Homo sapiens: one gene and its partners. The protein of the gene in region 1 purifies or fractionates together with the protein of each later gene. This does not show direct contact. Each region holds a gene or a part of one and is shown on either strand. Other genes may lie near its edges.

The links.
Region 2: the proteins of SLC13A4 (region 1) and MTNAP1 purify together in Homo sapiens (affinity purification with mass spectrometry; one large-scale study listed by BioGRID and IntAct). This does not show direct contact.
Region 3: the proteins of SLC13A4 (region 1) and POLR3B purify together in Homo sapiens (affinity purification with mass spectrometry; one large-scale study listed by BioGRID and IntAct). This does not show direct contact.

Annotation. Positions count from the first base shown.
Region 1 is NC_000007.14:135,690,039-135,693,691, forward strand, and holds part of SLC13A4 (solute carrier family 13 member 4), read right to left. Parts: intron 2,387-3,653; coding exon 2,285-2,386; intron 1,721-2,284; exon of another isoform or gene 1,608-1,720; coding exon 1,510-1,607; intron 1,288-1,509; coding exon 1,163-1,287; intron 1-1,162. UniProt on the Homo sapiens protein: Sodium:sulfate symporter that mediates sulfate reabsorption in the high endothelial venules (HEV).
Region 2 is NC_000017.11:73,242,389-73,246,041, reverse strand, and holds part of MTNAP1 (mitochondrial nucleoid-associated protein 1), read right to left. Parts: exon of another isoform or gene 3,620-3,653; coding exon of another isoform or gene 3,610-3,619; intron 3,147-3,609; coding exon 3,039-3,146; intron 875-3,038; coding exon of another isoform or gene 852-874; exon of another isoform or gene 696-851; intron 1-695. Other genes in the region: CPSF4L (putative cleavage and polyadenylation specificity factor subunit 4-like protein), read left to right, coding at 3,610-3,619. UniProt on the Homo sapiens protein: Critical regulator of mitochondrial DNA (mtDNA) abundance. Binds dsDNA throughout the mitochondrial genome without sequence specificity and controls mtDNA copy number by promoting its replication.
Region 3 is NC_000012.12:106,455,103-106,458,755, reverse strand, and holds part of POLR3B (DNA-directed RNA polymerase III subunit RPC2), read right to left. Parts: intron 1,619-3,653; coding exon 1,460-1,618; intron 1-1,459. UniProt on the Homo sapiens protein: Catalytic core component of RNA polymerase III (Pol III), a DNA-dependent RNA polymerase which synthesizes small non-coding RNAs using the four ribonucleoside triphosphates as substrates.

The DNA of each region.
Region 1 (3,653 bases):
GGTGTGGTGGCGTGTGCTTGTGATCCCAGCTATTTGGGAGGCTGAGGCATGAGAATTGCTTGAACCTGGGAGGCAGGGGTTGCAGTGAGCAGAGATGGCGCCACTGCACTCCAGCCTAGGTGACAGAGTGAGACTCTGTCTCAAAAAAAAAAAAAAAAAAAAAAAAAAAGAGAACCAAGTTTAGCATGGGATAATGCATGTAGATGAGATGGAGGGAGAAATAGTCTGAACCTTAACCTAATTCATTCTTAAGATTGTTTTCTATTTTATGGAGGGCTAACACTTTAGGAAATTCAATCATCCCCTCACATCCCCACCCCACTTAAAAGATCTCATCCAAAATCCTCCCAGTCAGAAAATCAAGAAGCATTTACATCAGCTTTAGCCTAGATTTTCCAAAGGGGCTCAGTCTATGTATTGTGGACAGACAGTTCACCATGTGTCACTTGGAGCATCTCTGGTCCCTTACAGAGATCGCCTATTACCACTCCTATTACCTATTACCTATGTCTATCTCCTGTTACCATCTCCTATTGCCACTGTCAAATCCCAGAAGGAGATGGCTGCAAACTCCAATAAACCTTTTGCTTGTAGCAGCATGGGCCCCATAGATGAACTATCAATGCCCATGTGTCATGACTGTGTGGCACAGCCCATCTGTTCCTCTGTTCCTAGTAGCGCTGAGAAGCTTAGGGCAGCAGAGGACATCCATCCTGCTCTATTGTTTCCCTTCCCAGGGACTCTGTGAACATTCTCAGCTGCTTTGAGTCTTTCCTCCCATGCCCATAATGACTCATTAGGTAAAGATGCTGGAAAAGTATTTGACCCATAAGAACAGAATTCAAGCCGGGTGCAGTGGCTCATGCCTGTCATCCCAGCATTTTGGGAGGCCGAGGCAGGTGGATCACTTGAGGTCAGGAGTTTGAGACTAGCCTGGCCAACATGGTGAAACCGCGTCTCTACTAAAAATACAAAAACTAGCTGGCATCATGGTGCACGCCTGTAATCCCAGCTACTTGGGAGGCTGAGGCAAGAGAATCGCTTGAACCCAGGAGGCGGAGGTTGCAGTGAGCTGAGATTGTGCCACTGCACTCCAGCCTGGGTGACAGAGCAAGACTGTCTCAAAAAAAAAAACCCCAAAAAAACAGAATTCAAGAATTACCTTGCTACCAGAAGCCAGAGCATAGCCTCCCCCAACCAGAATGACAATCTCCCAGGGCATGGTCTTCTGGAAGTCCTTCCACGTGATGATGGGCTCGGTCCCCAGTGAGTGCTCCTGGTTCTCTCCTGGATTAGAGAGAGATGTAAAGCCAGATAAACCCTGATGGACGTGATTTGTGGAGACAGGAGCCTAATTGGTGAAGTGGATGATTTGGGATACTGCTATTTGGGGCGGGGGCCGGGAGGGGGGTGGGAATCTGAAGGACCTTGGTAAATCTCTTTGGGAGTATTAGTCTGATTTGGGTATTCTTCAACTAGAGCTACCCCCAGTTTCTTCCCTTCTCTCACCATCATTCTTTTTCCCAAAGCAGGGCTTCTTCGCTGGAATGAGGAAGAGGAGGAAGCCAAGGAAGACAGAGACTGTGGCATCAGTACGGTAGCCTTTCCTAGTAAAGAGACAAGCATAGCTGAGGAGAAGGGTCAGGAATTTTCAGGAGTAACATGATGTCTCGGAGCAGTCTGTCCGAACACAGTGCCTCTTTTTAGGACTTATCTAGAGGTAACATTAAGCTTAGTTCTTGCCAGTTGCTGCCACGCTATCCACTTTGGATTTAATGGGCAATGGCGAATGTCTGGAGGCAGGGCCTGGCTAGAGTAGATGTCTTAATGTGAATTTGTGAGCCCGTTAATTGGGGCAAGTCCTAGATGGAGTGATCAGGAGTGGAGTTGGTTAGATAAAGGAGAATAGAAGAGGATGAGACCTCTTTCCTATGAAGGCCACACCTCCATGTGCCTCCCTTCTCAAGTGAGAAGTTGATTTCTTCTTTACAGTTGGTACTTTATAGATGTTTCCTCCTTTAACTTTCATAACCACCTATGAGGTAACCAAGCTTCCAAGAGCTTATGTAATGAGACTACATGCAGCACTGGATTCCAACCCCAGACCGGGACTCCAAAGAGTGTTTTTCCTTCCTGATTTCACACTGCAGCCTCCCTAAAAAGAGTGGATTTCCTGGGGAATGAAATCTTCCTGGCTTCATATCTGCCCCTGAGAGTCTATGAAGTCTTGCCTGAAGAATTGGGGTGAGGGGGTTGTTCTTAAGGAGGAAATGATATCACTTACTTTTCAAAGAAAGAATCCCAGCCAGGGACAAAGCCAGGCTCCCGGGTAAACCACAGTACGGTCATCAGGATGAAGAAAAATCCAGTCACCATTTCTGGGTAGCTATAAAATAAAACAGAAAGACCCACTCAGGAACTGAGAAATTTCTCCTAGCTTTTTCACTTTGCTTCTGGAAGCTTCTGTATTTAGAGTTTCAATACCCTAGACATAAAACACACTCACTGCCTAACCACTATGAATGGCTGACAGTGAGATGAGGAGAAGACTGAGTGGCCCCAGAAAACATGACATTAACCATGTTCCTGGAGAAACTTCAGTAGAAAGGGCAAGAGAACACAGCACTGTACATTTGTAAAATAATTTCAAATACAGCCTACAAGGAGAGTGCAGTGAAATAGGCAGCCCCAAACACTGTGCTGGTGGGAGGAGGAATTGCTACAACCTTTTTGAGGCCATTTGATGATACACATTAGAAGCCTTAAAGTTGGTCATTCCCTGGCTGGGTGTGGTGGCCCACGCCCGTAATCCCAGCACTTTGGGAGGCCGAGGTGGGCGGATCATGAGGTCAGGAGATGGAGACCATCCTGGCTAACACAGTGAAACCCCATCTCTACTAAAAATGCAAAAAATTAGCTGGGCGTGGTGTCACGTGCCTGTAGTCCCAGTTACTCGGGAGGCTGAGGCAGGAGAATCGCTTGAACCCAGGAGGTGGAGGTTTCAGCGAGCCAAGATTGTGCCACTGCACTCCAGACTGGGCAAAAGGGTGAGACTCCATCCCAAAAAAAAAAAAAAAAAAAAAAAAATAGTTGGTCATTCCCATCATCTAACCAGAAATGCATACTGAGACATTAATTACCTATTAAAAAATGGAAGCATCCTCTATATCCAATGGTATTTCATGACACTGAATACATTTTGATACAACTCTGTGTTAAAATGAGATGCATCCATTGATAATCCCATTTCCACAGCAGAGTTAAGGATGTGGAACATACTGTACTGAGAGTACAAAGTTGAGTTGAGAAAGGCAAGGTATACAACAGTTTCAGTGTGGACTGAATTTTACCAAAAATACATAAGAGTTTTGCACAAAAAAGCATGGAAAGAAGTGTTAACATGGGGTGCTAAGAATCCAGTCAATTTTGATTTTTTTTCTTATACTGTCTTGTATTTTTGAAATGTTCTACAATGAACATGTATTCCTTTTATAACTTAAAGCTTTAAATAAGACAGTGTCTACCTGGATTGTTTTATGCAAAGTTGTATGTGCCAATTGCCATAAAAGGAGAAATAGCACTAAATAGGAAGCTGGGTCCCTGTGGAAAAGCTGATGGAAGTGGCTGAGGGTTGGTTAGTGATTTCTTGGACG
Region 2 (3,653 bases), on another chromosome or scaffold:
CTCTCTGTGGGCCAAAGCAGAAGTCAAAAAATCAGACACTGAATAGTTTGATGAGATGAAGAGACACAGAAAACCCACCAGCCAAAAACAACCCTAACAAATGGAGAGGAATTTCTCAGTAATGCACAGAAACTCTTGAGAAAGGGATAGATAGGGGTGGGATTCTGAAAAGTTTCCAGGAAGAGATGATACATTAGCCACCGGTTCATTATTATACTCAATTAAGATGTATAAAATGTGATTTAACATTATAGTTAGTGTGCTATTTTAAAAATCAGCTTAAAAATATTTGTAAGCTTTTTTTCGGAGGCTTACCTGCAACTCGAATGCCCATCCTTAGCTCTTGTGTTTCTCACACCTTATCAAGATCTGGTCAAGGGCCCCAAAGAAACTAAGGGGAAGGGCCTGATGTGGGCTTATTTTCTGCCAATTCAGATACTTTCCTGTATCAACATATAGGTAGTAGTCTGGTATCTCATATAGCTGAATGGTAATGAGATACTAGCTTTTTACTGAGAAGTGACTTCTTAATTTTAGTGATGAACTTTGTCATCTTCACATCTCCTTGAATAACAACTTTATGGTTAAACAAAACTAGTTTTTCTCTAATTCTCAGTTGCTCCTGAGAGCAAGCCAAGAACATCCAGACAGAACCAGATCTGTCTATATTAATAATACGTTTACTTCCTGTATCATTATTTTAGATTCCAATAATTTTATTCTTTATTTTTTTCACTCCCCTCTCCCTGTCCCAAATATTATACATTTTTAAACTGTTAAGTATGTATTGCAGTCGTCTCCACTGTACGCCCTTTGCTGTTCCAGAGCTTTAAGTGATGTCCAGGTCAACACTACTTACGCCACCGCTGCAGCTCTTTGGATAAACAGAGACAAATGTAAGGATCCGAGAGGCCACTTCCAATGACTGTTACTATCTTTTGCCTCTACAGATCATTCTCTTTTTGTTTTATAAGTTTAGAAATAGAGTATTAAGCACAATGAGAAGTTTGTTTCACTTTCTTCAGTCTCTGTTCATTAATGTCAGGTATCAAACAATCCCTTTCAGACTGGTAAAACTTTAAGAAAAGCCCTTTTCTCTGTGGGAGAAATGACTCTTGGTTTTGGGCCTCTCCATTTATGCAGGACGATCAGAAAGGCACTTCTTTTCCTCACCCATGGCCAGGTGTCTGATACAAGAGATGGCGGCGAGGCCATCCCAGCCAGCATGCAGGAGTGCTGCCGCCTTGTTCCTGCTGTCGGACCTACCCGCTACTCACTAGGCACTGATTTCATCAAACGAATCCCAATTAGCATCAAATTGTGATTTTTTTTTTTCTTAAGAAGTCCAGTGTGTGAATTATGCTGGCCTTCAGAATTCATCGTTATCTTGTACTTTTACACCTGAAGTTTTCATCTGAAAGTGGGCTTTTTGTTTTAATTGTACAAAAATACTGGTGGTTTTTTTTTTTTTTTTTTTTTTTTGAGATGCAGTTTCACTTGTTGCCCAGGCTGGAGTAGTGGCGCGATCTCGGCTCACTGCAACCTCTGCCTCCTGGGTTCTAGCAATTCTCCTGCCTCAGCCTCCCGAGTAGCTGGGACTACAGGCGCCCGCCACCACGCCCAGCTAATCTTTGTATTTTTAGTAGAGACAGGGTTTCACCACGTTGGGCAGGCTGGTCTTGAACTCATGACCTCAGGTGATCTGCCAGCCTCGGCCTCCCAAAGTGCTGGGATTACAGGCGTGAGCCACCGCGCCCGGCCCCAAAATACTGGTTTTTGATTGTACAAAAACCAGCACAAAAATTTAATTATACAAAAATGCTGATATTTTTGATACCCACTCATCTTTTTAACTAGAAGGATTTTTTTAATAATACAATAAGAAATGAACAAACACATCTTGAATTAAGATAAATGAAATTAAGGTATTTTCCTTCTGGTTAAGACTTAGTGCAAGCTGAAACTTGGAGAATGGCACTTTGTTTTTTAAGTGTTCAAAGTAGATTAACTGAGATAGCAATAAGACTTAGACACATTGGTAAGTGACAGCTGTATTCTATTCCTCCTTCTCTCTTTTGTGGTGTAAAGGTGTTTGGTTTCAATGCCAAAAAGGTGCTCTTAGGCACCAAGGAAAAGCACCTTCCATTGGAGCAGGGTAACAGTTCTTAGGTACCTGACCTTTTAGCAGGGAAGGGAAAAAAGCTACAAAGGCTGAGTGCGGTGGCTCATGCCTGTAATTCCAGCACTTTGGGAGGCCGAGGCAGGAGAATCATGAGGTCAGGAGTTCGAGACTAGCCTGGCCAATATGGTGAAAACCCTGTCTCTACTAAAAATACAAAAACAAAGTTAGCCAGGCATGGTGACACACACCTGTAGTCCCAGCTACTCAGGAGGCTGAGGCAGAAGAATCACTTGAACCTAGGAGGCAGAGGTTACAGTGAGCTGAGATCATGCCACTGCACTCTAGCCTGGGTGGGAAAAAAAAAAAAAAAAGACAACATGAAATGGAGGACAAGGGCAATTATGTAAATTCTAGTCAAATCTTATACAGGCCATTACAACCAAGCCTCTAATAAAACCCCGGAGCCTGCCAGGTGCAGTGGCTTATGCCTGTAATCTTAGCACTTTGGGAGGCTGAGGTGGGCGGATCACCTGAGGTCGGCAGTTCGAGACCAGCCTGACCCACATGGAGAAACCCCGTCTCTACTAAAAATACAAAATTAGCCGGGCATGGTGGTGCATGCCTATAATCCCAGCTACTCGAGAGGCTGAGGCAGGAGAATCACTTGAACCCAGGAGGCAGAGGTTGCAGTGAGCTGAGATCGTGCCATTGCACTCCAGCCTGGGCAACAAGAGCAAAACTGTATCTCAAAAAAATAAAACCCAGAAACCCCAGGCAATAGCTCATTCACCAGGGCATGCCAGATACTGTAAAGCTGTAAAAAAAAAAAAAAAAAAAAAAAATTCAGAGAATCCCTTGGAGGTCCACATAACGGAATGGGACCTGTTATTTAGGCTAGAAATATAGAAAGACTTACTCAGACGTCTGAAACTCCAGCTACAACACAGGACGAAGTATCCTGTGAAGAGCATCGTGATGCCACCGAATCCACTCTTCCTTATGGTGGTGTTGCACCTGATCCAGCCTGTTCAAAAGGAAACACGGCTTGTTGTTACAGCAACTGAAACTAGGGCCAGTATCCGCGAGTCATTCAAGTTTTCCCAGTTAGCCTGAGTGATGGAACTGTAATTCAGAGATTTACACGCACATATTTTAAACACATAAAGGCTAACATCAAAGAACCTTAACTTGACTAGATTCAAATTAGTTACTCTTGTTTTGGGTGCTTGGTTAAAATCTTTAGTGGGAGGAGGCTAATACAACTGGTTAACTTGAGGTTTAGAGTTTTTCTGGCTTTGGGAGGAGGCACAATCAATGTGGGCAAGGGAAAGTTGGGGGTAGGTATTAAAAAATACAAGCTGTTGAATAAATGGTAGCTGTTATTAGCTTTGGTGCTTTCAATTATGTCCAACTCCAAAATGAACACAGACAAATGGAAAACTAGGAAGACAACACACATTTTAACATTTTTTTCCTCTCCTCTTTAGCCTTGCTTAACAGCCCGAAGAGAAACTTTTCCAAATGCCCAGAA
Region 3 (3,653 bases), on another chromosome or scaffold:
TCACAGCGCGTATTTTCCAAGCCATACTGACCAGTGTTAGGGTGAGAAAAATTCTCCAAGAAACAAAGGCAGAGGGAGGGAGGAGAAGTCGCGTACTCTGTGTCTCTTTGGAACCACAGCTTGATAAAGCATTCACCGCCCACAGGCCAACCATGACAAAGTCATGTGGATTTCCCTCCTCACAAACTGGGTTCTCTCCACCTTCACCACAGCTCCTGGTACCAGGTCTACCTTCTATTTTAGTGCCCTTCTAATCCTTTTTCTACACTGTAGTCAGAATGATCATTCAAAACACATATCTGAATATATCATTGCTTTTAGGATCATAATGAAAATAGTATCATGGGCTCGGCATGGTGGCTCAAGCACTTTGGGAAGCCGAGGTGGGTGGAGAACTTGAGCCCAGGAGTTCAAGACAAGCCTGGACAAGATGGTAAGACCTCATCTCTACAAAAAATACAAAAAACTATCCAGGCATGGTGGCACGTGCCTATGGGTCCCAGCTATACAGGAGGTTGAAGTGGGAGAATCACTTGAGTCTGGGAGGCAGAGGTTGCAGTGAGCTGAGATTGTGCCACTGCACTCCAGCCTCAGTGACAGACTGAGACCCTGTCTCAAAAATAAAATTAATAAAATAAAATAAAGACAATACTAACATGGTTGCAAGGACTTGCTTACTCTGGCCCCTACCCCTTGCGTCACCCACCAACTCATGTGCACCATGCTTCCCTGCACTCTCTTCTTGTTAGCCACGCTGGTCTTCTTTCAGACCTTTCAACTACCAAGCTCTGGGACCCTTGCACAAGCTTTTCTCATTACTTAGAACATGCTCCCTGATCCTCTTCTTTAGTTAACTCTTCCCTATCCTTCAGATTCCAGCTCACTTCCTCGGGAAAGCCATGCTGATCTTCCCAACAAGGTCAAATTCTCTTGCTATAAAATGGCCTCATAGTTACCTATATGATTCCTTAACCTGGATTTATGCATGATCCTCTGATCAATGTCAGTCTCCTGCACTAGCCTGTGAGACCCATAAGGGCAAGGGCTATTTGTTTCATCAACAAAATGCATTACAAGTTTGTAATTATAATGGAGTCATACCTTTGCAGGGGGATAAAATTCTAAAGTAGTCTGTAAGCTAAATGTGTAAATGAAGAAATACCAGTGCAGATGCAGGGACATAAACTACTCTAAATATTTCCTTAAAGTGGCTTTTCTATTATTCAAAATTATAACTAGAAAATTATAGTTAGCATAGATTACTGATAGGTAAAAACATAGTGTATAGAAAAACAGACTGGAAGGAAATTCATCAAAAATGACCTCATTGGTTGAGTTTGGATGGTGGTTTTATAGGTTGTTACTTTTTTCTGCCCTTTTTGCCAAATATTCAGAAATATTATTGAATAACATATGATGTCAAAAAGTATTAAAATTTTTTCTTTTAAAAGGCTTTTACCTGGAGAACAAATACCATCTGCATCTAAGATTTCATGTCGCCAGATAGGTTTCCTTGTAGCAGCATCCAACATGGGCCCCATCACTTTATCAAAAGTCTGATTGGTGTATCGTTTCAACGTACATTTAGCATTTTTATATACAAGGCAACGCCCAAAGCCTAAAATGAAACCAAGATGGGCATTAGAACCACCAGTAACCCAAAGCTATAAGGAAATATGGATTTGTGCTACTCAACAATCCACTCCACCTCACCCTCCCCCAAATCCCAAAACTTCTCTGTATTTGATAATAATCTGGGACCAGTACAAACCAAATAAAAATCTGATAATCTGAAGAAGCAGCACAGGACTTGTCCCCTACCTACTGTCTGTGTAAACACTGGAATCTCTACAACCATTTTCTGCATGGAATACACCTTGTCATACTGGAGAACGGTGAGAGAAATCTAAGACTGGCGCTGTGATTCTTTCAGAGGACAGAGCCATAGAATATTAGAATTGGAAAGGCCCTTAGAAATCACCTGCTTAACCTATCTGTTTTACAGGCACTAGGAGTGAGGTCTAGAGAAATTAAGTGGCCAAGGTCATCCAAAAAGTTGGCAGCAGAGTTGAGAATTGTGTTGAACAGCACAAGTCCACTGACTCCTGAGCCAGGATACACATCCTTTTGGTGCATAACTTCTGCTAAACTTCCCTGGAAAGTTTTCCTTTTTAAAATTTGGCATTTAGAGCAAGTTCTAAGCCAACAAGTAAAAACAATAATTTTTCTCCAGAGAAGAGACAGAATGAAAAAAGAAATAATCAAATTATTTCAATGGGAAAAATAGTTCTCCTCTGCCCTAAAGATTGGAGTTTAATTACATTTTTAGATTGCATTTATCTAGTGGATGAGGGAAAGGCTGTGAAATCAACTAACAATCTAAACATCAAGAAAAATAAGCTGTCTAGCAATGGATCAGAAAAGAAAAGGAAGAAAAATAAGCAAAAAGGACAGAAGAAAAACCTTTGGGTGGGGCAAAAAAACTCAACCACTGAATCCCTAAAAGAAAAAATCCATGAGTTGTAGAGTTACCCAAAACAGCTGTCATTCCTTCAACACTATAATTTCCTGATTCTGTGGCTGCATTTCTTTCTTTTTTCCCTTTGGCCAAGCAGTTATTTTAAACTGGATTCTCTTACTAATCTCCTCAGGATATACTGAGCCATGCCAGAGTTCACTTAAATAAGAAATGTCTCAGGATTAAATGCCGCTTATTACTGATGAAATAAATGCATGGCAGTAAAATCCTTCACTTAACAATTTTCCACCAAAAACAGAAATCTAAGAATGTGACTTTAGAAATCAATCAGGTAAAAGTGGATTTATAAATAAAATCTCAGGGCTGTAATGTAATTTTTTAAATATGAAGGTGACTGTGAGATGAAGTAACGAATTTCTAAAATTGGACGTCAGATGAAGACATTTGTGTCTTTAAGCAAGGCCGTAGTCATCATGGCTCCTAGGAAATTGTGTATGGCCATAATAAACTCGGCTCAGAATGCCAGCTGGTTTGGAAACATTACATGATCTTGAAATTTCATACAGTAGCCATTAACTGCAACATGCTGGAGTGCAATGTGAATCTTAACTGCATGAAATCAAGAAGTGTTTTCTTCAAAGTGTAAACAGACATTTTATTTACAGGTGATAGCTTAAAAGCTAGGGGATAGTAAACTCAGATCACTGAATTGGGTTGCAGAGTTTCTGACAGACATCACAAAGTCTTCAGATTTCCACATAAACGTTACCAGTTAATCAGAAAGGAAAACATCTAGTTTTAAAGCATGGCTGTTGTCATTTGGAGGAAAAAAAGAGGCATAAATTAAGTGTGGCCAACATTAATGCCAAAGACACATGTCTAGGAGTACTATTATGGCTGCCTAGCAACTACAAAGAGGGAAGGGGAAGGCATAGTGGGTACGCCAGGAAGGAAAAAGAGAAATCGAGATTATGAATAGAGAAGTCAGACTTCAGATCAGGTGATGTCTAACAAACCACGAGGTGGTGACTTGTGAAAGTATTGTCAAAAACAGAAAGAAAAGCAGAAAAACTCCACGCCAGAGTTTGTGGCCGTGTATTTTTAACTTTCGTCACTTGGCCAAAGAAGTTACCAAATTATGAGGTTACACAAATAAGAAACAGCCTTTTACATC